Regions from separate parts of the Homo sapiens genome. Here region 1 is linked to region 2. The links come from fine-mapping of genetic effects on gene expression. Tissue or cell type: prefrontal cortex. Region 2 holds a variant in brackets; the other region holds the start of a gene. All regions are shown on one strand. Distances are between the middles of the regions. Region 1 holds the start of RAB3B (RAB3B, member RAS oncogene family). Region 2 overlaps RAB3B (RAB3B, member RAS oncogene family).

The links.
Region 1: it holds the start of RAB3B, and the variant in region 2 is fine-mapped to the expression of RAB3B in prefrontal cortex (ROSMAP, PIP 0.95).

What each region holds. Positions count from the first base shown.
Region 1 is chr1:51,984,453-51,996,831 of GRCh38, forward strand. RAB3B (RAB3B, member RAS oncogene family) reads right to left here and starts at 6,248. Exons shown (of 5, transcript NM_002867.4): 1 at 6,100-6,248. It also overlaps the pseudogene RN7SL290P. RefSeq lists a silencer at 6,162-6,271.
Region 2 is chr1:51,913,061-51,925,439 of GRCh38, forward strand. It overlaps RAB3B (RAB3B, member RAS oncogene family), which reads right to left. Exons shown (of 5, transcript NM_002867.4): 5 at 1-7,054. The coding sequence ends at 6,867. Among named protein-coding and RNA genes, the nearest start is that of NRDC, 41 kb to the left of the region's middle. The variant CTTTTTTTTTTTTT/C (reference allele first, on the strand shown) is at 5,911.

The sequences.
Region 1 (12,379 bases), 71 kb after region 2:
CAATCTTGGCTCACTGCAACCTCCAACTCCTGGGTTCAAGCGATTCTCCTGCCTCAGCCTCCCAAGTAGCTGGGACTACAGGTGCTCACCATCACACCGGCTAATTTTTGTATTTTTAATAGAGATGGGGTTTCACCATGTTGGCCCAGCCAGATCAATTATTTAATGTTGTCACTCTCTTTAGGAAGTTGTTTTTAAGTTGTTTTTCTACTCTTAATTATTATACATGAAACTGCAGTGAACATTTCTTTACATAAATTTTTGTACATTTTCCTAATTACTTCCTTGAGAGAGATTCCTTGAAGTGGAATTGCTGGTCAAAGAGTCACTACTAAAACATAAATGTGATCTTTACCACAATTTCATATCCTTTATCTTCTTTTATCTCTAAATAAACCTGGGAAATAAAGCTGGAAAGACGTGGATTATTATTTCCATTTGATCAAGAAGGAAACTGAAAATGAGAAATTAAAAGGATTTGCCCAAATCTCATAGCTAACAGCCGAGACTAGACTTAGTACCCTGCAGTGTTATGAAAAAGTTTAAAATCAATGCTCTACCCTCAGATGAATTCTTAGGTAAGTCATATTGCCTCTCTAAGCCACAGCACTTTTACCTTAAAATAGAGAAAATACCACCTACTTCACAGAGCTTGGTACAAATAGAAAGAGTAGTACTATACGTAAACAATCTGACACAGTTTCTCGGCCCATGGAGGTACTGAATACATATTATTTCACTGGCCCCTTTAATTCACTTCTGCAGGCAAATCTTGTTCAACTGCCCTCTCCCTGATTGTGGCTCCATTATTTGGGCCTGTTTTACAATTAACTGTTTGCTCTCTCTTCTGGATTCAAGGGGGCTTTATCCATCCTTACATCTGGTCAACGCTAGACCTACAGTAAATCCTTAGAGGGTGTTATGTCTTTCAAGAAACACATATAGAGCATTTTTCAAGTGCCAGACTATCAGTGTAAATGTCAGATTACTGGTTTTCACTTTTCTGATGTAGCCCAGCTTCACACTCTTAAACTGCTAGAATTAGAGGGGACTTTGGAGTAGCAGCTTTTTATTGTAACAAAAAGCCTGGCTACTGGGCCCAGCTTTCCCAGTAACTCAGTGTGTAAACTTGGCCTAGTTACTTAAATTCTATGCCTCAGTGTCCTCATCTGACAATAATACTTACTTCACGAGGTGCTGTGAATTTTAAATAAGAGAACGTATATAAGTATGTTTCATACACTGTGCTGAGAAAAATACATGTAGCCTCGTGTAGAATCAGTGAGAAATTTGCCTGCCTTTATTAGCTGTGACTGCCACAGATAGGAGACTAGGAAGTGATGGCAAGAGTAAAAAATTGTTTCAGTTCCTGATCTACCTCCGTTTATCTTACAGGTAAAAAAAAAAAAAAAAAATTGAGGCTCTGCAAAGACAAGTGATTTGTCCAAGCTCACACAGCAAGTCAGTTGGAGGGTCATGAATGGAACTTCTGTTACCTAATGGCTTCCAGGTTTGACGGGATTAAGGAAAACGAAAACCACAACAATTTTAGGGTGAATAAAGAAGCATCCTGGCTGGGCATGGTGGCTCATGCCTGTAATCCCAACACTTTGGGATGCCAAAATGGGAAAATCACTTGAGGCCAGGAGTTCAAAACCAGCCTGGGAAACATAGTGAGATTCCATTTCTACGAATTTTTTTTTTTTTTTTTTTTTTGAGGCAGAGTCTCACTCTGTCGCCCAGGCTGGAGGGCAGTGGCGCGATCTCAGCTCACTGCAAGCTCCGCCTCCCGGGTTCACGCCATTCTCCTGCCTCAGCCTCCCGAGTAGCTGGGACTACAGACACCCGCCACCATACCCGGCTAATTTTTTGTATTTTTACTAGAGATGGGGTTTCACCGTGTTAGCCAGGATGGTCTCGGTCTCCTGACCTTGTGATCCGCCTGCCTCGGCCTCCCAAAGTGCTGGGATTACAGGCGTGAGCCACCGCGCCCAGCCAAAAAAAGTTTAAATTAGTCGGATGTGGTGGTGTGCACCTGTAGTCCTCGGTACTTGGGAGGCTGAGGCTGGAAAATCACTTGAGTCCAGAGGTTCGAGGTTAGAGTGAGCTATGATTGCACCACTGTATCCCAACCTGGGTGACAGAGTGAGACCCTATCTCTAAAAATAAAAATTAAAAAAAAGAAGCATACCCAACATCCTGAGTGTCCTGCTACCGTACTGTACTTGCCATACCACACTGTTAACATCTGCTTATGCACACACAGCATGGCTTTCCCAGTAGGTGGTGTGAGAACGGGGAGAGGCAGAGAGCTGAGTTCAGTTGGAAGGCTCATTCAGATGGAAGCCCCCAAGGGGATCTTCTTAGGAGGGGGCGGCCAGGGGCTACTCAGACATTTGGAAGACAGGCAAAAAGCATCCCAGCAGGCAGCTGCCTGAGGCAGATCTAAGCAGACAGGTCATGCACAGTGGTGCATGCAGAATTGCATTTGTAAGATAAGCATCAATCAAATCTTTCCTCTATTTTGTGACAGTCACATAAAATGATAGAGCTATCTCCGTGACAAGCAATACAGATGAAGGCCCAGGGACCATCTGGGAAGTCGTCCCTGTCCCAGGCTGGGGGAAAGAAATGACTCCTCAAAGGGTGGCTGTGAAAAACAACCCTTTCAGTCTGATAGGCGGCAGAAATAAGCACCTAAGGAAGAAGCCAACTTCAGCCAGGAAAGAGCGGGGAGGAGGAGGAGAGAGCCCTAAAATCCAGCGAGAAGAGATCAGCTCAATAAATGGAGTGAAGAAGTGAATGAAGGAACTTACCTTTTGTTGCAAAGAACATGAGACTGAGTCCAAGAGACCTGGCATTTGAAAGATAAGCCCTGGCTCTTTCAGTGATCCTGTAAACTTAGGCAAATCACACCCCTGGCCTCAGTTTCCTTATCTATAAAAGGAGCTCATAAAATGGCTTCCTGGCAAAACTGTTGCAAGAATTAAAACCTGTATATGGGAGGGTGTTTTATTAACCCCTTATTTTGTTTGTTTGTTTGTCTCTGTGCTTCATGGTTTCTTCTAGCAAGTCATCCTGTGTAGTGGAAATAGTTTGGAGCTCCAAATCAAACAAACTAGATTCAGTTTCCAGGTCTATCATTTATTACCTATGAGACCTTGGCAAGAAATGTTACATGATTAAGACAGTTTCCTCATTCATAAAACAAGTGTTGTTGGGAAAATTATAGGTAATGTGGGTTATACATCTAGAATAGTACAGTAATTTCTTGGTATAGGCAAGGGATTGGCTCCAGGACCCCCATATATACCGAAATCCACGCCTACTCAAGAACCACAGTTGGCCCAGTGGAACCCACCTAGACTAAAAGTTGGTCCTCTGAATATACAGACTTCACCTCCCTTCACTACTGTATTTTCTTCTCTTTTTCTTCTTTTTTAAGAGATGGGTGTCACTCTGTTTCCCAGGATGGAGTACAGTGGCCTGATCATAACTCACTGTAGCTTCAGGTTCCTGGGCTCAAGCGATCCTCCTACCTCAGCCTCCCAAATAGCTGGGATTCCAGGTTTGAGCCACTGCGCTTGACCCACCATGGTATTTTTTTTAATCAGTGTTTGGTTGAAAAAAAAAATTCAGGTATAAGTGAACCTACACAGTTCAAACCCATGCTGTTCAAAGGTCAACTGTATATGCAATATAGCAGGGGCTCAATAATGTAATTCCCTGTCTTCCTACTTGGAGCATTTCAGTGAGAATAAGAAGGGAGTTGGGCAAATGTGGACCTCATCCTCCTTTAAGCCATACTCTACTTTTCTAATTCAATCTGTCTTTAGACCATTCCCCACTGCTGACCCATCACCACCTTCTCATTGTTTTCCCAGGTCTCCTAGAGCCACAGAAACAATATCACAATAGCTACCATTTATTGAGCACCTACTAAATGTCTAGCATTCTACAAGATGCTTTCAAAGCATTCCATCTTGCACCAACAGATGCTTGATATTCATTTCCTTCCTCCTCCAGATTGGAAAGAGATAGCCATGGGTGTGTCCACTGACAAAACAGGAACACCTGCAGAATAACATCAGTGGCCTCTCTCTTTGTACATTGTTTTACAGTTTACAAAGTTCTTTTCACCCACATTATCCTATTTGATTCTCACAACAATTCTTGGGAATGGATGAAGAAATTGAGGCAGGAGCACCAATTATTCATTCAATCAACATTCACCAAGCACCTACTATGCACCAGGACCTGTGCTATACTTTAGGGAGATGGAGAGAAACCCTAGGAGCTTCAAGCTTAGAGGGGAAATCTATTTAAATATTTTGTATAGGTTACTGATGCCTCCCTTCATGTCATAATCTTTAAGAAACTGAAGATCTATTTCTTGGACTGGAGATGCTTTTAGATTTTTGCCTTTTCCCATACGGTTTCCTCTGATAGGAACACACTTTCCTCCACTGCTAGCTAAATCCTTCATGACCAGGAAGGCTTCCCCAACCCACCCACCTCCCCCAAAATGCTTCTTCTCTGGCTCCCACAGGGCACCAGGGCTTTCCACTTCTATAGATAGGGCCTTTCACGGCTTCCATTGTCTTCCTCTGTTTATAGGCACAGAACAGGTGGACACCCACCTGTGCGCGCGCACACACACACACACACACACACACACACATCCTCTCCTTTTACTGTCTCCCACCCCTTTCCATCTGGATTCCAGGAAGCCGGGGGAAGAGGGCCCATCTTGTTTTGTGTGTGTGTGTGTGTGTGTGTGTGTGTGTGTGTGTGTGTGTGTGTGTTTTGAGGGCCCATCTTTCTCCCACCTCCTCCACATCTCTCTTAGCTTCCAAAGGCTGCTGCCCTGCCCTCCCCAAAGTTGCTTCCATGCTTGGACTACAGAACAGAGTTGGATGACTTTTTCTGTCCACGATTCTCTTATTTTCTGTGATCCCCGGTGCCCGTGTAACAAGGTCCAGTGCCTGGGTCCCCTCCTTGGACTCCTGAGTGGCCGAGACACCGCTAGTGCGTGGACACCACTCCAGCCCCCATTACCTTTCCACCCTTACACCACGACCCACACCTGGCCTCCTCCCCAGGCTGACCCAGCGCCCCACCACCCTATCTATACACTCCAAGTTCTCCCACGATTCCTCCACTTGCAGCCGCCAGACCCTACTCTATTCCAGAGCCTCCTCTCCACTCCTGACCAGAATGTAGGCCCCTGTGTCCATTTCCAAGGCCACTTCCCTGTGTCTCCACCGGCTCCCTGCCCCCTTCCTCTGCAGCAGGGTAGACCCAACCTGGCCTCTCACCCTTCCATTCTCCCAAGCTTCCCGCCCCCAAGCCCCACCCCTCGTCTTCCATCTACAGTTACCCCCACGCCGGTCCCCAGCCGGGCTCAACCTCCGACCCCAGCTATCCATACCCACATCCCCCATAAATGACCCTCTTTCGACCAGACACTGCCCTGCTGCCTTTCTCCTTCCCAGCTATCCATACCCACATCCCCACCCCCGACCCTCTCCCAACCAGACACTCCCCAGCTGCCCAGCGCCCCTTGCCCTCGGCACCTCAGTCCCCTCCAGCTCCAAACGACCCCCGCCCAGCCAGTCCCCTCCCCTCAGCTCCTCACCTCCATGCCTCCCCCCGCACCCCCGCTCTAGCTCCCCTCAGTCCGCTCCCTTCACCGCCCCCTTCGCTGCCCCTCGGCTGCCCGGTACCACCTTTCCGCACAGCCCCACTCCGCCCTCCTCGCAGCTCCCCCGCCCCCCACGCCCCCGTTTCCCCCAGCGATCCCTCACTGCCCTCCAGTTGCCCCCCATCTCTCCTCCCAGCCCCAGCGCCGTCTTTCTTGCTCCCCTCCCGCCCTTGGAGCTCCCCCGGCTGCCCCCAACGTCTGGGAGACCCCCTCGGCGCCCCCTCCCTAGGTGAGCCCCACCTCTGCCGCCGCGGAGCCCCCTCCCTCGCTCCTCCCCCGGCTTCCTTCCGCTGCCCCGCGCTCCTTCTCGGCGCCCGCTCTCGGTGCCCAGCGCCCCGCGCCGGGGATCGGTCCCTGATCCTCCGCGGGCGGGCTGCCGGGGCCGCGCCCCTTACCGCGGACTCCGAGTGCGGGACGACGGGTTCGCTCCCGGACGGTCGGCGGGACGGCAGGACCTGGCGTCGGGAGGGCGCGGAGGGGGCCGGGGCGGGGCGCTGCGGGATGGTCTGGTCCGGTCAGGTCCTCACAGTGGCGCCTGAGGGCTGAGGCTCCCGCTCCAGCACTGCTCCGCTCCGGCCGCATCCAGGCCCCGCCCAAGGGCGGAGTCTGTGTTCGCCCCGCCCCGGCCCTCAACTCCTAGCAGGTGTAATCCGAGGTGACTCAGGACCTCCAGGTCCCCCATGTCTGGGTGACTCTCGTGATTTATCTTAATTGTCATGCCTCGTTCCATTGACTGAACTTACTAGGGTAATTAGAGAGCTTTGATGATAATGTAGCTGATGATGGGTAGCAGTTTTGCCATTTCCAAACTGCTTTCTGGTCCGGTCCGTTCTATGGCTCCGTCTTCACAAAAGCCCAGAGAGGGAGGCTGACTACAAGCGGAAACCAAGCCAGAAACCTGGACGCTGTCCTCTACCCTATCTGTGTTTCCTTCACACCCCACATCCCACCGCCTTAACATATCCCTGCCCTTCCTCTGTGTCTCCATTGCCCTTGTTCTGACTCCAGCATCATCACTTCTTGCTTGGACTAATGCAACAGCTTCCTAATTCCTGCCTTCACTCTCCAATTCACCCTATAAAACCAGGACGTGGTGTCAGCATGGCCATTTCCACCCTTGTACAAAAATTCTTTCTCCTGTGGTCTCCAGTCATACCACCCTCCACCCCTCCTCATCACTGACACCCAATTGTTCCTTATGCATTAAAGATTGCAGCCCCTGGCCCATGGTCATCCTAACTAGCCCCTGTTCTGCCATACTCCTGGTGACTTCGGTAGCTGTGAGACTTCCTGGTCCCATTCATTCTGAGTCAGATACCAAAATCATTTTGACACAAGCCCGAGCAACCCTTTAAAAAATGTCACCATGTTACCATCAACCTTGTTTAAGAAAACTCTCGGCCAGGCACAGTGGCTGACGCCTGTAATCCCAGCACTTTGGAAGGCCAAAGTGGGCAGATCACTTGAGGTCAGGAGTTCGAGACCAACCTGGCCAACATGGTGAAACCCTGTCTCTACTAAAAATACAAAAATTAGCCGGGCATGGTGGTGCATGCCTGTAGTCCCAGCTACTTGGGAGGCTGAGGCAGAATTGCTTGCACCCAGGAGGCAGAGGTTGCAGTGAGCCGAGATCACTGCACTCCAGCAGTGCACTCCAGCCTGGGCAACAAAGCCAGACTCCATCAAAAACCAAACAAACAAACAAACAAAAACCTCTCAATGGTTTCCCATTACCAGGAGGCTGTCAACAGGAGTAGAAAAATGTTCTTGCCTGGCCTGGCCCTAGGAAGTCCCACTTCCACTAGAGGAGGCAGATAGAGGAGGCAATAAATACCCCACCCTCAAATCCTGATATGGACTTCCAGTCTTCCTGAGGTCACAGGAGCCAGCTGAAGGCTTGCTCTAGAATCATTGTCTTTCCCCACACTTCTCCCCCATCTCAGATCTTAGAGGTCTGAGTCAAATACCAAAACCATTTTCCCCCCAAGTTCCATTATGACCCTGTCTACAGTGTACATCTCCAGCCTAGGAACCACCCAAGCTGACAGCTCCTCTGCTTGTCTGGCCTCTGCCTCAGACGCTTACTCTTCTGAGCTTCTTGCCCAGCCCTTTCACTCACACTGCCCATCACACTGGCAGCTCTTTCCTCTGTGCCTTCTAGAATCCTGTTCTTTTGTCAACAAACTCTGCTATACCCTCTGCTTCTTCAGAGTACTCAGGTGACTTCTTTGCCTGAGCCTCCTCCAGGTACTGCCTCCTTTGCTGCCCTCTGCTAGAAGGCTTCTCATTTTTCCACTCCCCATATACTATAAAACTAGGATGTGGGGATGGCATGGCCATTTCCACCCTTGTGCAAAAATTCTTTCTTCTGTGCTCTCCAGCCATACCCCCCTCAACCCCTCCTCATCACTGACCCCCCAATTGCTCCTTATGCATTACAGATTGCAGCCCCTGGCTCATGGTCATCCTCACTAGCCCCTGTCCTGCCATCCTCCTGGTGACTTCAGTAGCTATGAGATTTCCTGGTCCCTCAGTCCTTGTCCTCCACATCACCTTGGCCACCAGCTCCCATGGTCACTCTTGAGCTCTTAATCACCCACTGCTGGTACCTCTGTAATAGCAAAATCAAACATGCTACGCTGAACTGCTCCCTCACTCTCTTTCTCTCACAAGGCCCTACTTCCCTCATTTCAAAATAGACGAGATGATAATGATTATTCTTTCTTCCTAGGAATAATGAGACAGCATATAGAGCCATCCTTTTAAAGTTGTGAGACAATATGAGAACAGATGGTATTGCTTTTATGTAGCCTCAGTTCTTCTGGTTGCTTTCTCCTTCTCCCTCCTCTGAAAGGCGGTATAGTAAATTAGAAAGGGCACACACAGGCTTGGGGCCAGGCAGACCTGGTCTTCAGTCCTTGCTTGCTGTGTGATCTTATGCCAATTACCTAATTTCTCTCGCACGCACACCCCTTCCTTATTTGTAGAAAGAGCAATAATAAGAGCTGCTTCTCAGAGTTGTTGGGAAGATCAAATGAGAACACAAGCTACTGGAGAGGACTTGATAGAGTGGTAGGCATACAGTAAGCATTCAACAAATAGGAAACACTGTGCTTCGTATAACAGAAAAAAAAAAGTGCTATTTTTAAACCACAACTGCCTTCCAGGAATGACAGATCCCAATGCACAGAAAGTCCTTTTGTCCTGCTTGGGGCCTCAATTGATGAGAGTGAATACGTAACTTTGGGAGAAGAAATTGCTCTCTATGTTTAAAAAGGGAGTAGGGGTAGGTGGGGCATGATGGCCCACGTCTGCAATCCCAGCACTTTGGGACCACCTGAGGCCAGGAGTTCGAGACCAGCCTGGCCAACATGGTAAAACTCTGTCTCCACTAAAAATACAAAAATTAGCCGGGCGTGGTGGTGGGCGCCTGTACTCCCACCTACTCGGGAGGCTGAGGCGGGAGAATCACTTGAACCTGGGAGGCGGAGGTTGCAGTGAGCCGAGATTGTGCTACTGCACTCCAGCATGGGCAACAGAGTGAGACTCCATCTAAACAAAATTAGGGGTAGCAGGAGGCAGAGGTTGCGATGAGCCGAGATTGCGCCGTTGCACTCCAGCCTGGGAAACAAGAGTGAAACTCCATCTCAAAAAAAAAAAAAAAAAAAAGGTGGGGGTGGGAGGGTTGGGGGAAGGCAAATTTGGAATTCACTTGACAAAATGGGAGGGCAAGTTAATAGAGATCGGAGGGGAAAAGGAAAAAGATGAGTAAGAAAATCAATGTAAGGATAGGTGCTACATAGGTAAAGAGTCAGAAGAAACTCTCCCATGGTAGTTGACAAGAGTGTTTCAGCAGTGGGATACCTAAAATGGGATAAGTTGTTTGTTACACTAGGACGTGACCATCCTATGTGACTCTCAAGACTTCAGGAAGGGCTATTACACCCAGGAACGCTTTTTGAGAGAGGGGAATTGTGAGAGTACATGAGTAGGGAGTTGAGCAATGTGCTTTGTTAGGTCTCAGTTGAAAAAGGAGACTGGAAGCAGAGGTAACTGTGAGACCACAAGCCCTTGTGGAACTTGCAAAAACTTGTGTAGGACTTTGCACTTACATGAGTTGGGAAATGTGAATATTGAGGTTCAAGCCCATTGCATTTGGATCTTGAAGAGGCAGAGAGGCAGCCAGACAGCGGCTCACACCTGTAATCCCAGCACTTTGGGAGGCCAAGGTCGGCAGATCACCTGAGGTGAGGAGTTCAAGACCAGCCTGGCCAACATTGTGAAACCCCATCTCTACTAAAAATACAAAAAAATTAGCCAGCATGGTGGCAGGTGACTGTAATCCCAGCTACTTGGGAGGCTGAGGCAGGAGAATCGCTTGAACCCGGGAGGCGGAGGTTGCAGTGAACCAAGATCGCACCACTGCACTCTTGCCTGGGTGACAGAGTCAGACTTGGTCTCAAATAAAAAAAAAAAAAAGCCGGGGGCGGTGGCTCATGCCTGTAATCCCAGCACTTTGGGAGGCCGAGGCGGGCGGATCACGAAGTCAGGAGATCAAGACCATCCTGGCTAACGTGGTGAAACCCTGTCTCTACTAAAAACACAAAAAATTAGCCGGGCGTCGTGGTGGGCGCCTTTAGTCCCAGGTACTCGGGAGGCTGAGGCAGGAGAATGGCGTGAACCCTGGAGGCGGAGCTTGCAGTGAGTTGAGATCGCGCCACTGCACTCCAGCCTCGGCGACAGAGCGAGACTCCATCTCAAAAAAAAAAAAAAAAAAAAAGGAGGCAGAGAGGCCACATCTGACATTTGGGTTGCATCATTTATGCCCTCATAAGCTACCTTCTTATTGACTAAGGTAACCACCTGAGGGAAGAACAACACAAATCAAATTATACTGGACTGTCTTCACTTCCAGATCCAAATGCCCAAGGAAGAATGGGAAGGAAAACAAAATTCTTTTTTTTTTTTTTTTGAGATAGAGTTTTGCTCTTGTTGCCCAGGCTGGAGTGCAATGGCGTGATCTTGGCTCACTGCAACCTACGCCTCCCGGGTTCAAATGATTTGGCTGCCTCAGCCTCCTGAGTTGCTGGGATTACAGGCATGTACCACCACGCCCAGCTAATTTTGTATTTTTAGTAGAGACGGGGTTTCTCCATGTTGGTCAGGCTGGTCTCAAACTCCTGACCTCAGGTGATCTGCCCCGCCTCAGCCTCCCAAAGTGCTGGAATTACAGGCATGAGCCACTGAACCTGGCCCCTGAATGAAGACAAAATTCTACCTTTTGTCTTGGCTCAGATTAGTTAACAATTATATTCATTGAATCTTTAAATTACACTAAGATTATTCACATCTTTTATCTCATTTAATCCTCAATATAATTATGCAAGTTATAGATTATCATCCCTTTTTTATAGACAAGGAAAGAGAATTGAGAAAGTTTAAGTGACTTGCCCAAGGTCATACAACTGGTAAGTGGCAGAGCCAGATAGCAGGTCTGTCTGACTCCAAGGACAGGGCGTTTTCTATTAGACTCTAAAATTATATTTTGATTGCCCAGTGAACATCATTGTGATTAAGAGTCCTGCAAGGGCAAGATGGCACCTGCCTGTAGTCCCAGCTACTCGGGAGGCTGAGGCAGGTGGATGATTTCAGCTCAGGAGTTCTGGGCTGTTATGTGTGTTATGCAGAACAGGTGTTCTCACTAAGTTCAGCATCAATATGGTGAATTCCCAGGAGTGTGGGGCTACCAGGTTGCCCAAGGAGGAGTGAACCAGCCAAGGTCAGAAACAGCAGGCCAGAACTTCTGTGCTGATCAGTAGTGGGATCATGCCTGTGAATAACCACTGTACTCCAGCTGGGGCAACATGGAGAGACCCTGTCTCTATATTTAAAAAATAAATAAATAGGCCAGGCACGGTAGCTCATGCCTGTAATCCCAGCACTTTGGGAGGCCGAGGCGGGCAGATCACCTGAGGTCAGGAGTTCGAGACCAGCCTGGCCAACATAGTGAAACCCCATCTCTACTAAAAATACAAAAAATTAGCTGGGCATGGTAGTGCACGCCTGTAGTCCCAGCTACTCGGGAGGCTGAAGCAAGAGAATCATTTGAACCTGGGAGGCAGAGATTGCAGTGAGCCAAGAGCATGCCACTGCATACCAGCCTGGGTGACAGAGAGAGACCCTGTCTCAAAAATAAATAAATAAATAAATAATAGAGTCCTACAACAAAATTTCCTTTTGTAGTTGCCAGAGTAATCAGCCTTCTCCAACTCCTAGTTTTATAAGAAGTATAGAATTGATGCTCTTTTGTTGTTGTTATTAGGGTTGGGGGGGGGGGCGGTCTTCCTATATTGCCCAGTCTGATCTTGAACTCCTGGTCTCAAGCAATCCTCCCACCTCAGCCTTCCAAGAAGCTAAGATCGCAGGTGTCAGCTTTTTATTGAATGATAATCAGTGGCTTAGAAAATGGCACAAGCGGATGTCGTTTGGAATGTTCAAATTTTCACAAGGTGAATATTTACCCTAGTGTGAGTCCCTCATGGCCAGCTTAGGAACTCAGATGTGTTGACAGGTCAGACATTTCCATCCAACCCATTCAATAGATTGCTCCATGCAATAGGGTAGCTGAAGCAGGTACCTGTGAAACAGCTGAGAAATGTAGGATTCAATGAGAGG
Region 2 (12,379 bases):
TTCTATATATACTGAATCTTTCTGCTGGGCTTCTGGCCAGGAACTTCCGGTAGGAATTACAACCATTATCTACGGTGAATCCTGTGAAATGAGAAGTCAGATTCATCCCTCGGGGATAGCTAAGAGGTATCCAAATGGACTGTTTAACAAGCATCAAAACTTCTTCATCTCGAGTGTCTTGATTCCTCCAAAGTAAATCCTTTGGATCACTATTAAACAAATGATAAGACTGCCCTGCCCTATACAGTTTTGCCACTTGTCTTTGGTGATATCATCGGAGCCATGTTTTAAGACCCCAGGACATCTACCAGACTTAGTTTCAGAGGACTGAGGGTGCTTCCTGTGGTAGATTGAAAAATTGGTCACCATATTTTGTAGCTCCTCCCATAAAGAGATGGCATCTATTTCCCCCTCCCCTTTTTTTTTTTTGAGACTGAGTCTGGCTCTATCGCCCAGGCTGAAGTGCAGTGGTGCGATTTAGGCTCATTGCAACCTCCTCCTCCTGGGTTCAAGCAATTCTTGTGCTTCAGCCTCCCAAATAGCTGGGATTACAGATGCCCGCCACCACACCCAGCTAATTTTTGTATTTTTAGTAGAGATGGGTTTTCACCATGTTGGCCAGGCTGGTCTGGAACTCCTGACCTCAAATGATCCGCATGCCTTGGCCTCCCAAAGTGCTGGGATTACAGACATGAGCCACTGAGCCAAGCCCTATTTCTCCATTTCTTAAAACTGGACTTGGCCATGGAACTTGTGTTCATCAGTGAGACATTGGCAAATGTGATGGAAACAGAGCTTGAAAAGTGCTTCTGTGTTGGATCTTGCCCTCTCTTGCTTCGAGGAAACTCCTGCTACCATATGGACAAATCTGGGCAGCCTTCTGGAGGATGACACCACAGGGAGAAAGGCCTCAACAGCCCCAGTCATCTCAGCTGGGACCCCAGACATGTGGATGTAGCTATCCTAGACCATCCTGCCTCAGCCAGAAGAACCACCCAGCCAACCCACAGAATCATAAGAAATGATACATGTTTGTTGTTTTAAGCCTGTAAGTTTTGGAGTGGTTGGTTACGTCCTTCAGAAAACAACAATGAACTCCTAGCCAGGCAGTCTAACAATGTTTCACAGGTAGAGATATTCTTTCTCCTATCCTCAGTCTTCTTGGGGCATTTGTATTTGATCAGTCATCAAAGGTTAGTACTAAAAGGTGAAAGCTTAGTTGAGGAATGTAAAGCAATGGCCAGTGGGTAGCAGAGATATTTGGGAGCAGTAGACTCTTCCAAGAGCCCCTGAAACAGTTTCTCAAAGGTGATTCCGGTTTCCCAGTTGAGTGTTCTCACAGCATCACGTGCCTTTCCTTTAGAGTACTTTGTAATTATATTTGGGTGATGATTTGACAATGTCTATACTAAATCATGAAGCTATACGTTTCATGAAAGCAAGAACTGTGTCTAATTTGCCACTACTTGTATCCTGGCACATAATATATATTCATTTGTTGAGAAAATAAATGAATAAATAAATTTGAATTTTGTCTACTTCATATAATGGATCAGGACCTTAAAAAACCATCATTTAACAGTATTTATATCTCACGGACTAGTGTTTTGCATTTACTTCCAGCCACAGGATGCTACTTGATTCCCCAACTATGGCAGGTAATTGGGTGTAGGCTTGGGGCAGGGAATCTGAAATCAATGAGATCCCAGGACACTGGTTATTGTAGTTCTTTCCCCTTCCCCTAAACTGTTGGCAAACAAAGTCAAACAAACATTCCTCAGGATACTCCAGAAAACTCGATATCCAAGCAAGGAGCTTAGTGGCCGGCAGGAGCAGGTGATATGAGTTGGGGAGTCAGGTCTGGAGAATGGTCTTATTCTGTGGATGTTATAAGGCTTCGGTCACCAAGCAATTGTGGCTATTTAATTAACTGAGGTTATTTAACTCTAAGAATCCTTGGGAGCCTGGTACTACCAGAGGGTATATCCCATCTACCCTTCTGCTAAGACAATCTGAAGAAAAAAATTTGAAAGAGCATGAGTCAGACAGAGGAGGGTTCAAATGATGCTAGTGGGTGACTTGAGCATGTTAACTTTTCCAGGGCTGTTTCCTTGACTGCCAAATTGGGATAATAATATTTTAGAAACAGCATCTCCATTAGATCATAGGACCTTGCAGGCAGGGATCATTTTTTTTTTCATCTGTATTTATCTAGTGCTTAATAATGCTAGGCCCTAGTCGATAGTCAAATAGCTAAGTGTCTTCTTAGAGGTGATCCAGGACCTAGTCCTGGCTCCATCACTGTGATACTCTCAGAATAATTAGGAGATTTCCTTCCATTCTTTGGATGTCAACCTTCCCTTCTATAAAATAGGAGCCTGGAACAGATCTTCTCTAAGCTCCTTTCCAGATCTGATAATCGATGAGTCTGTGACCATTCAGTACACTCTACTCCACTGCTGCTCCTAGAAGTTAATAATGCTATAGACTGAGGAGACAATGAGTCACGAATCACTTTGTATTTACAGATACACATGCATTTAAAATAGATGTAAATAAACACAATACTGTATTGCACTTTTGGCCACTTTTGCGTCTTTAGAAGTCAAGAGGTGTTTTTTGTTGTTGTTGTTTGTTTGCTTGTTTTGTTTTGAGATGGAGTCTCGCTCTGTCACCCAGGCTGAAGTGCAGTGGCACGATCTCGGCTCACTGCAACCTCTGCCTCCCAGGTTCAAGCGATTCTCTGCCTCAGCCTCCTGAGTAGGGATTTCAGGTGCCCACCACCACGCCTGGCTAATTTTTGTATTTTTAGTAGAGATGGGGGTTTCACCATGTTGCCCAGGCTGGTCTTGAACTCCTGACCTCAGGTGATCTGCCCACCTCGGCCTCCCAAAGTGCTGGGATTACAGGCATGAGCTGCTGCGCCCAGCCAGAAGTCAAGAGTTTTTAAATATTTTATTTGGATTGTTGAGGAAGATTAAATCCAGGACAAGTTGCCACTAACACATATTACACAGCTTGAACCTTGGTGGCTAATTGCGCTATTACTGTGATTGATGAACACTATGCTGCAATCAGCTGGAAGCTGCTGCCTTTCATTTGACAGAAATGAGGTCACAGAGCAGGGCTGGGGAGCTGCCATCTCACAAGCAGGTCTGGTTGTCTGTTGCCCAGTAGACAAGCTTGCCACTATAACATTTAACTCTTGATTCCATCTATTGTGAAGATGCTTGTTCCCTTGAACTGGCTCCTGAGTTTTACAGAATTTGACAGTTTTAAAGAAAACGATTTCATCTTTGCCTGGATATTCAGTAGGAGAGAAAAGATTATTGGATATAGATACTAAAATATCCAGGCGTCATGAGGACCTTGGTCTGAAATCCTAGTACTAGAGTAGGTGAGTGTTAATGACCAGAAAAAAATAGTAATTATCCATGACACTGTATACAATGTTACAGTGTAAAAATCACACCCAGAACCACTGCCCTCTGAAGCAACTGTATTATACCCATGGTCAGAAAAGTTAATCAAGTCACTCTTCACAAATGCCCCATTGCTGGAGCATAGAGGCTGTTCAAAGTGGAGCATGGAGGCTCCTGCTGATTGGGAGCCTGATAAGTGTTGCCTGGCAGAGGCAGATACAGGGAAAGCCAGCACTTGGGACTGGGAAGCACTGGGCATTTTCTACCCAGGCCCATGGGATCTGTTGCCTCAGAGACTGACTCGCCTTTCCTGAGCATTAGACATCCATCACCTGGGATTAGTCTGAGTAGTTGAGCAATTTGTTAACAGATTAGAGATATACATCTTTTCTCCAGTGGACTTGGAATCTGATGGCCCTGGAATTGAATCCTAATGTGGCTTTAACACTCTCTTGGTATGTGATCCAAGTCTCGTAATCTCTCTGGATCATAGTTTGTCTATAAAAGATGCAGCCCAGAATGTGGTTAAGAGCACAGACCTTGGAGCCTACTGCCTGGATGTGAACTCCAGCTCTACCACTTACTTATTATGTGACTTTAGAGGTCCAGCTAGAACCTCTTTGTACCTTTGTTTCCTCATCTTCAAATGAGGCTCACTATAGTGCCTCCCTCACAAGATGTTGGGAAGATAAATGAGTTAATGCACGTAAAATGCTTGGAACAATGTCTAGTACAGAGTAAGCATGACATCAGAGTTGGCCGAGACAACTCTTGGATGCCAATCCTGATCTCTCAGGTTTGTTTGGTGGATCAACTGAAATGGTGAAGGTGAAAAAAAAGAGACACCGAGTTATTAGTGCCAAAAGAGACCTTAAAGATCATCCAAATAAGCTCCCTCATTTTATAAGTAGGAAATCAAGACTCAAAAGTGGAAAGTAACTGGCCCAGAGTCACAGTTGATTTAATGACAGAGTCCGGGTCTCCTGATTCCAAGTCCAAAGCTCTGCTCTCTGCATTGCATCAAAGAAAGCAACATCTTTGTAGAGCTGACTCCTTTAAAAAAAAAAAGAGAGAAAGAGAGACAGAGAGACAGGGTCTTATTCTTACTCTGTCACCCAGACTGGAATGCAGTGGCATAATTACAGCTCACTGCAACCTCAAATTCTTGGGCTCAAGCAATCCTCCTGCCTCAGCCTCCCAAGTAGCTGGGACTACAGGCATGCACCATCACATCTGGCTAATTTTTTTTTTTGTAGGGATAGAATTTGACCACATTGCCCAGGCTGGTCTCAAACTCCTGGCCTCAAGTGTTCCTCCTGCCTTGGCTTTCCAAAGTGCTGGGATTACAGGTGTGAGCCACAGCTGGATGGTCCTTTTATTTAGTCATTGGACTGGTTGCTAGTTAATTACTTTTCTAGGACAATGAGCCTCATTTGAAATGAAAAGAAAACTGGCGAGAGACTCCTCCTGCCCGCTGACTTTTGAGGTGGCTGAGGATTCAGGCCATGATAGAGAAGAAAGGTTTTCTGGAATCACTGCCAGTTCCATGTCATTATTTCAGCCAAAACAAAATATGTCCCTGTGGCCAAGCAAGCTAGAATAATGAGCTAATTTATTCTGGTCTCTGAGTTTCTTTTATTTTTTTCCTCAGGTATTTAATTAAGGGGCTTCCACCAGAAGTGGTTTCCCACACTCTCTGGTAGAAACTAAGGTTTCACTCCCAGGAGAAAGGGGTTGGGATCGGGATCTCTGAGTTCAATTTTCTCAATTTTTTCAGAGTCATGCCACCTTAAGATTTATTTTGCTTTGAATCATACTTCTCAGTTAGACTGCTCAAGAGCAGTTAAAAGATGGATTGGAGGAAAAGGGCAGGATAGGGAGAAGACCCTATGAAGAACAGCAGATGGAATTATAGAGGTATTTGACCTAGAGAAAAGGCAAGTCCCAGGAGTCATGATTCCTGTTCTCAAATAGTCTGAAGACGTCACAGGGCAGAGGGAGCACAGACTGTGAAGTCTCTGACAGCAGAGCTGGTACCAACAGGGAGGGAAGAAGAAGAAGAATTTCCAGGAGGCAGATTTGAGCTCGATACAAGGAAAACTTTCTATGAGAGTTGACAAAGATGGTGTGGAAAATGAGCTCCTGTCCCTGCCTAGAAGGTGTGCTTTAAAAGAAAGAGATTTGATTGTTAGGCTTGACAGTCACTTGTCAGAAAAAGGAAGGTTAGAACTGACTAGTCAGACTAGGTAAATTTGGGCATCCCGTCAAATCTAAAATCCTCAGGTTCTAGGAGTCTAAGAACTAATAACCAATTTCACTAAGTTCCCACAGTTAAGAACCAACTGGAAAGCAGCAAAATCAGAAACTCATGATCTGTTTCTTGATCTTGCCTGTTTCTCTTTTTCTCTGTTTGTCTTTCTTGAGCATACCTACTTGCTCTTTCATATAGCAGGAACCTCTGACATTTTGTAGGGGATAATCCTTTTCT[CTTTTTTTTTTTTT/C]TTTTTTTTTTGAGACGGAGTCTCGCTCTGTCGCCCAGGCCGGACTGCGGACTGCAGTGGCGCAATCTCGGCTCACTGCAAGCTCCGCTTCCCGGGTTCACGCCATTCTCCTGCCTCAGCCTCCCGAGTAGCTGGGACTACAGGCGCCCGCCACCGCGCCCGGCTAATTTTTTGTATTTTTAGTAGAGACGGGGTTTCACCTTGTTAGCCAGGATGGTCTCGATCTCCTGACCTCATGATCCACCCGCCTCGGCCTCCCAAAGTGCTGGGATTACAGGCGTGAGCCACCGCGCCCGGCCAATCCTTTTCTCTTAAGTGTGTTTCTGACTCAGCCTTTGCTCCTTCAGCATCATTAGAGAGTCTGAGCTCTCTGAAGATTAGCTCTTCCTGTCGCCACAGCAACTGCCCAGGCCCTGTGGGCATCCGTGGTAACAGGCGCAGGGCTTTGAGAGCCCAAGCTTGACTTGTAGTGAGAGAAAGCCCCGCAGGGAGCCCGATAGGAAACAAGCACGTTGTGCTTTGAGAAGTTGTCTTTAACAGGATTAGCTATGCAGGCGAGCCTCACTTTACGCAATTGGCATGCCCCTGAAGAATGTGTGCGTGTCAAATTTTGGTAAATGGAGGAACTCTCATTTTAAAGGCAGAAAAGAGACTGTTCTCTAAGTCCCTGTAGTGAATCCCCTTCGTAAAACAGAGTCTTCTTTTGTAAAGTGATTCTGCACCCGTGTAGTGACCTGTTATGTTAGTCTAGTGCTGAGTATCTATTACTGGGACCATCTGCAGAGAACCCCAGGGGCAGGCAAAGAATAGCAGCAACTCATCTTGCTCTGAGTGTGGGCAGTGTGTAACAGGGAGAGTGGGCTGAGAGCGGACAGTGTGTAACAGGGAGAAGCAGACTGGGTGTGGGGCCACAATGAGGGGAGGTCAGGAAGGTGGGCCTTGCCTAGCATGAGCAGTTCTGCTGCAGCAGCGGTGGGGTGTCCGAGAGACGCGTGTTCTTGGAGGAGCCCAGCATCGACGGGTCTGTGTCCAGCGAATCAGACATCTTGTCACAAATGGCATCCACCAGGCGCTCAAAGGCCTGCCTTACACTGATGTTCTCCTTTGCACTGGCTTCAAAGAAATCAAACCCTGGAAAGAGGAGAGATACAGATAAGGACTTTTCCCATCCCTTCTGCTGGAACCCTTCTGTGCCCTCAGCCCAAGCACTCTGGATTAATATGTCCAGTGCTCAGCAGTGAAGCAAAGAGGCTAAATTCCACGGACATGGGATTCTGCTTCAAGGAGACGGTACAGGGCAGGAGTTTCCTGCACTGGTCTTTCAGTCAGACTGATCCTAGCTCTACCACCGCCCAGCTGTTTAATTCCGGGCTGAGTCATTTATTCTCTTTACAAATCAATTTCCTGGTTTGTAAAAAGGGATAATTTTACCTACTTCATAGAATTATTTCAAGGATCAGGCAAGACAATGTATGTGAAATATATAACCCTGTGCCTGACACAGAGGGGGTCATTAGTGTTTGCTGACAGAGCAAATGCATAAACGTGTGTCCACAGCACCTTACAGTTTCCAAAGCACTTATCACATAGATTATTTTATTTGATCTTCATGTTGCCCCTGAGGAAGGAGTCTCAGTCAGATCCTCTCCACTTCACTAATACAAACACTGGCTTACAGAAGTAAGCTAGCTTGCCCAAGATAAGGAAAAGCACCAGTATGAGAAGCCCAGGTTTTGGACTTTTTCGCAGGGATTTTCCTCCTCTTTCCCCTGCCTCTCATTCCCCCTAGGCTGGCCAGCTCTAGTCTGGGCTCTAGGAGGCACCTCAAGATTCACACTGAATAAGTCTTCTTTGCCCTTTCCACCCATAGCCACACTGGTTTATTTCCACTCAGTGGGGTTCCTCCTCCCTGAATTCCACTAAAACGATCCAATAGATCTCACCCTCCCTCCACAAACCCAACAAAAGGCCCAGGGAAAACTACATCTCAGGTATGCAACATTCTTGTCTATTTTGTATCTTGAGACCCTTAGCGTCACTTTCTGTGATGAAAAGAACTTGGTTGTCCCAAGAGACACAGCAAAGGCCCTCCTGATTCCAAAAGGCTGCTTTCCACCCAAGGAATCTTGGTCAGCTTGGTGGCAGCCCTTAGAAGCAAAAGTGGCCCTCTCCATCAGTCCCCAGCCCTCTCCCACTTCTGTTGTCTGTCTGCTTTCCTCTTTCCCTTCTTTTGGAGCCTTTCCCCTGTGTCCCTTGCATTTTCTCCTTGGGATTCCTAATATCTTTGGGGCAACTACTACATGCCAGACACTATGCTAGGAGCTTTACTGATATCATCTTCTTTAATCCTCACAATAACCAGTTGGGTAAATAACATCATCTCCAATTTATAAATGAGAATATGAGAGACTGCATAACTCACACAAAGTCATGTGGCTGTATTAGCGGAAACTGGATTTAGACCTGGGTTTGGCTGTCTCCAAAGTCCACACACAGCTCTGCCTCTCATTTCTTCCCCCTTTTCTCTTTCACTTTGCATTTTTTTTTCCTGATTATACCTTTTTCTTCCTTTACAAGTCTCTTTGGCCTCCTCTGCTTTAATCCGACTAACAGTATCTGAGTCTGGGCAAGTCACTTCACCTCTCTGCTCACTTAACCTCTCCAATTCTCAGACTCCCTGTTGTCAAATAAGACAAACAACAGTGTCTTCCTACCAAGAACAGGTGGGAGGAGTGTGTGAGATGATGAATACATTGCTGTAAAAAAGTGGCCTGTTATAAAGACAGTTTCCTTCTGTTCTTTCAACTTGTTCCTCCCACCTCCTCTCCATCTTTCTAACATCCTCTTTTATCATCTTCTCTAACAAAGGAGGGATCTCTTTCCCCCCTCCCTCTTTCTCCCTATTATTCCACCATCCATAGAGAGGGCTGAAGCCCCCCAGGTATAAACAAGGCCTCTCTTTTCCCAGCCTTTTGGCTGGAAGGCACATGCCATTCCTGCCAGCCCACCTCCAGCTGACAGCCTCTCCTGTGGCCCATCTCCTGACCTGAGAAAGACAAGCAGCAGAAGTGCCTGCTAATTGTGGACATGTGATGAAGAAGGAGGCAGCTGCTGGCTCATTATACTCAGGCCATAGAAACCCAGTCAGCTTCAGAGACCCTCCAGCATATCGTTTTTCCTTAATGAACGTCACAAAAATGGACTCCCCAGTCTTTGACTGCCTTATCACAAGTGGCAGTGTTTGGGGAGGTGCGGGGAGTGTATTGTTTATTTGGGAAAGAGGCAGACCAGTAAGTAAGTAAATAGGTTTTCAGCTCAGATGAAGATGAGGACACAGTTCAAGGCCAGGGGCACAAATCCCTTGTGAGGAAGTGGCACTGAGGGGAGGACATGCCACATTGTACAGAGGGCAGCTACTAGCTGTGTGATCTTGGACAAGTTGCCTAATTGCTCCCAGTCTCTGTTTCCTCATCTATAGAATGAGGCGAATACTACCTACCCCATAGGATAGTAATGAAAATTAAATCCATGAAAGTATATGACATGATTGGCATGTGAATACATGGCAATTCTCTTTCCTATATGTTCCTGGCCCACCTTACTCCCAGCTTCCTTGCACCTCTACTGTCTCCAGGGCCTTTGGGGAAATCTCTTTGTCTTCATCACTTAGGGTCAATCAATAAGCCAGGTCTTTTTTTTTTTAATTTCATTTTTATTTATTTATTTTTTGAGAGACAGAGTCTTGCTCTGTCGCCCAGGCTGGAGTGCAGTGGCACAATCTCGGCTCACTGCAACCTCTGCCTCCCGGGTTCAAGCGATTTTCCTGCCTCAGCCTCCTGAGTAGCTGGGATTACAGGTACCCACCACCACACCCGGCTAATTTTTGTATTTGTAGTAGAGACAGGGTTTCACCATGTTGGCCAGGCTAGTCTGGAACTCCCAACCTCAGGTGATCTGCCCGCCTCGGTCTCCCAAAGTGCTGGGATTACAGGCATGAGCCACAGTGACTGGCCCACCAAGTCTTTATTGAGCATTGACCTTGTGCCATGTCTTGTGTTGAGTGTTAGAGATACAGACACAGGGAGATCAATTATAGTTGTAGAAAAGACATGCTAATAAAGGCATCAGTCTCTCCCATCTGCAGTTCACATTAACAGTTCACAAATACGAAAACAACCATGTGAGTGGGGTGGGGCAAGGCAAGGGTTAGCACTTGTAATTTGCAGACAGGAAAACTGAGACTCAGAGATGGGCCAGGGGTCTATCCCTTATGCCTCCTTGTCTCACGCTCAGTTGGAACAGCAACAGAACAAGCTGTAACATTCTAACCCAGGTAGAGGAAACCAGAGGCCATGCAGGGATGCAGGAGAGGGAGAGGCTGGCAGGGAAGGAGAGGAGGAGGAAGCTTCTTGAAGTTAGTGAGGATGTGAGCCTTTAAAGTCAGAACTCAGGCTGGGTGCAGTGGCTCACGCCTGTAATCCCTGCAGTTTGGGAGGCCGAGGTGGGTGGATCACCTGAGGTCAGGAGTTAGAGACCAGCCTGGCCAACATGGTGAAACCCTGTCTCTACTAAAAATACAAAAATTAACCGGGTGTGGTGGCACTGCCTGTAATCCCAGCTACTCGGGAGGCTGAGGCAGAAGAATTGCTTGAACCTGGGAGGCAGATGTTGCAGTGAGCTGAGATTGCGCCACTGCACTCCTGCCTGGGCGACAGAGTGAGACTCTGTCTCAAAAAAAAAAAAAAAAAAGTCAGAACTGAGCAAAACTGGCTAGGTGCTAGTGGCTCAAGCCTGGAATCCCAGTACTTTGGGGGTGCCAAGGCAGGAAGGTTGCTTAAGGCCAGTTGTTCGAGACCATAAATAAATAAATGAATACACAAATAAATTACATTAAAAATAATTAAACAAAACTCTTCACCTAACTTCTTCTCATTCTTCAGGACTCAGCTTACATATGGTATCTTCATTCTCCTCTGTGCTTCCTCCTGCCATAGCACTTTTTACCCTGCATGGCAGAAGTCCATATAGACAGGGAGCTCCCCAAACAGGAACTATGTCATTCTGAGCCCCAGCACCACCTGGAAGAGTAGGTGCTTAGTGAATGTTGGTGGAATGAATAGTTGAATTAAGGAGGTGGGAATGAGCAAGGAGGGTGTGGTTGAGGGGATACGGATAGTGTGGGTCATGAAAGCTCAGCTCAATGAGCACGGTGCTGGGCATTGGGGACAGCAAGGTGAATCAGACACAGCCCTTACCTTTGAGGAGCCCCTAGTGTGTTATGGAAGATAGACACATTGACAATATTACAGGGCAATAAGTGTTGGAATGGAGGGAAGCCAGGGGATTGTCAGGGCACAGAGAAAGCATCTAACCAAGCCTGGAGACCAGGGACGGTTTCTTGGAGAAGCTGATGCTTAAGCAGATATCAGCTAGACAAAGACATGTCACTGTGAGTGTATGTGTGAGCACAGGCATGTCTAGCATAGCACAACAGGCAGGGGAGACAGCATGAATAGAGCACAGATAAGGGGGCAAAATCAGCCTTGGTCTATGCCAAAAGGGCCATAGCAGTTTGTTATCCTTAGAGCAGAAAACCCTAAGTGGTGAGAGTTGAGTCAGCAGGGGGCCAAACAGGGGGAGCTCTTGTGTCATGCCAAAGAGATGTCTTTACTGTCATCTCAAAGGTACCCGGAATGTGAGAACTGTGACTCAAGTTACCAACTCATGGGTCTAGCCAGCTCAAGGGCCTCTCTTGCTTAGCAGAATAACCCCAAATGCACCCCACCCAATTACTGTCAGATTCCTGAAATATTCTTCATTAGTAGGTCCATATGGTAACCTTTTCTTCAGGTTCATTAATAAGGACTTTTAGGAGCTGAGAATCTAGTGAGGCCAGGAAGATGACAACCAATTATCCAGACTAGCCCCCAGTCCTTTTCTTCTCCTAATTGGCTTCAGAACAATGACATTTCTGCTGTTTTTAATGGGGCTCAATTCTTAACTGAATCTGAGATGTTCCTCCACCCCCCAAAAATGATCACGTTTATCTACTCTGTCCAAAGGCAGCTGTCACAGACCCATAGACTGCATCCACACTGCCTGCTTCTGAATACGACCTCAGAATTCTATTCAGAAACTTGCAACCAGCTAAACTCACCTCTCCTCATCCCAACACTGCTCCAGAACATGTCTCCTCCACGGTTCAGATCCCTTCTCCATCCTGCTCTGACACCACCTCATCTCTGTCATTTATCAACCTTCAACTCACATCCTCTGGTCACTGATGATTTGGGCTCAGTGGGACTCACTGTCTTCCTTTCTACTCAAGGCTTGTTTTCATTCTCTGGAACTTTGAGTGTCATGTGGACAATCCATCCGGCACCTTGGATGGACCTTCTCTTCCATTTTGCTTCAGCTATTCACCTGTCCCTATAACTTGAGCTATTTTGACTTGGA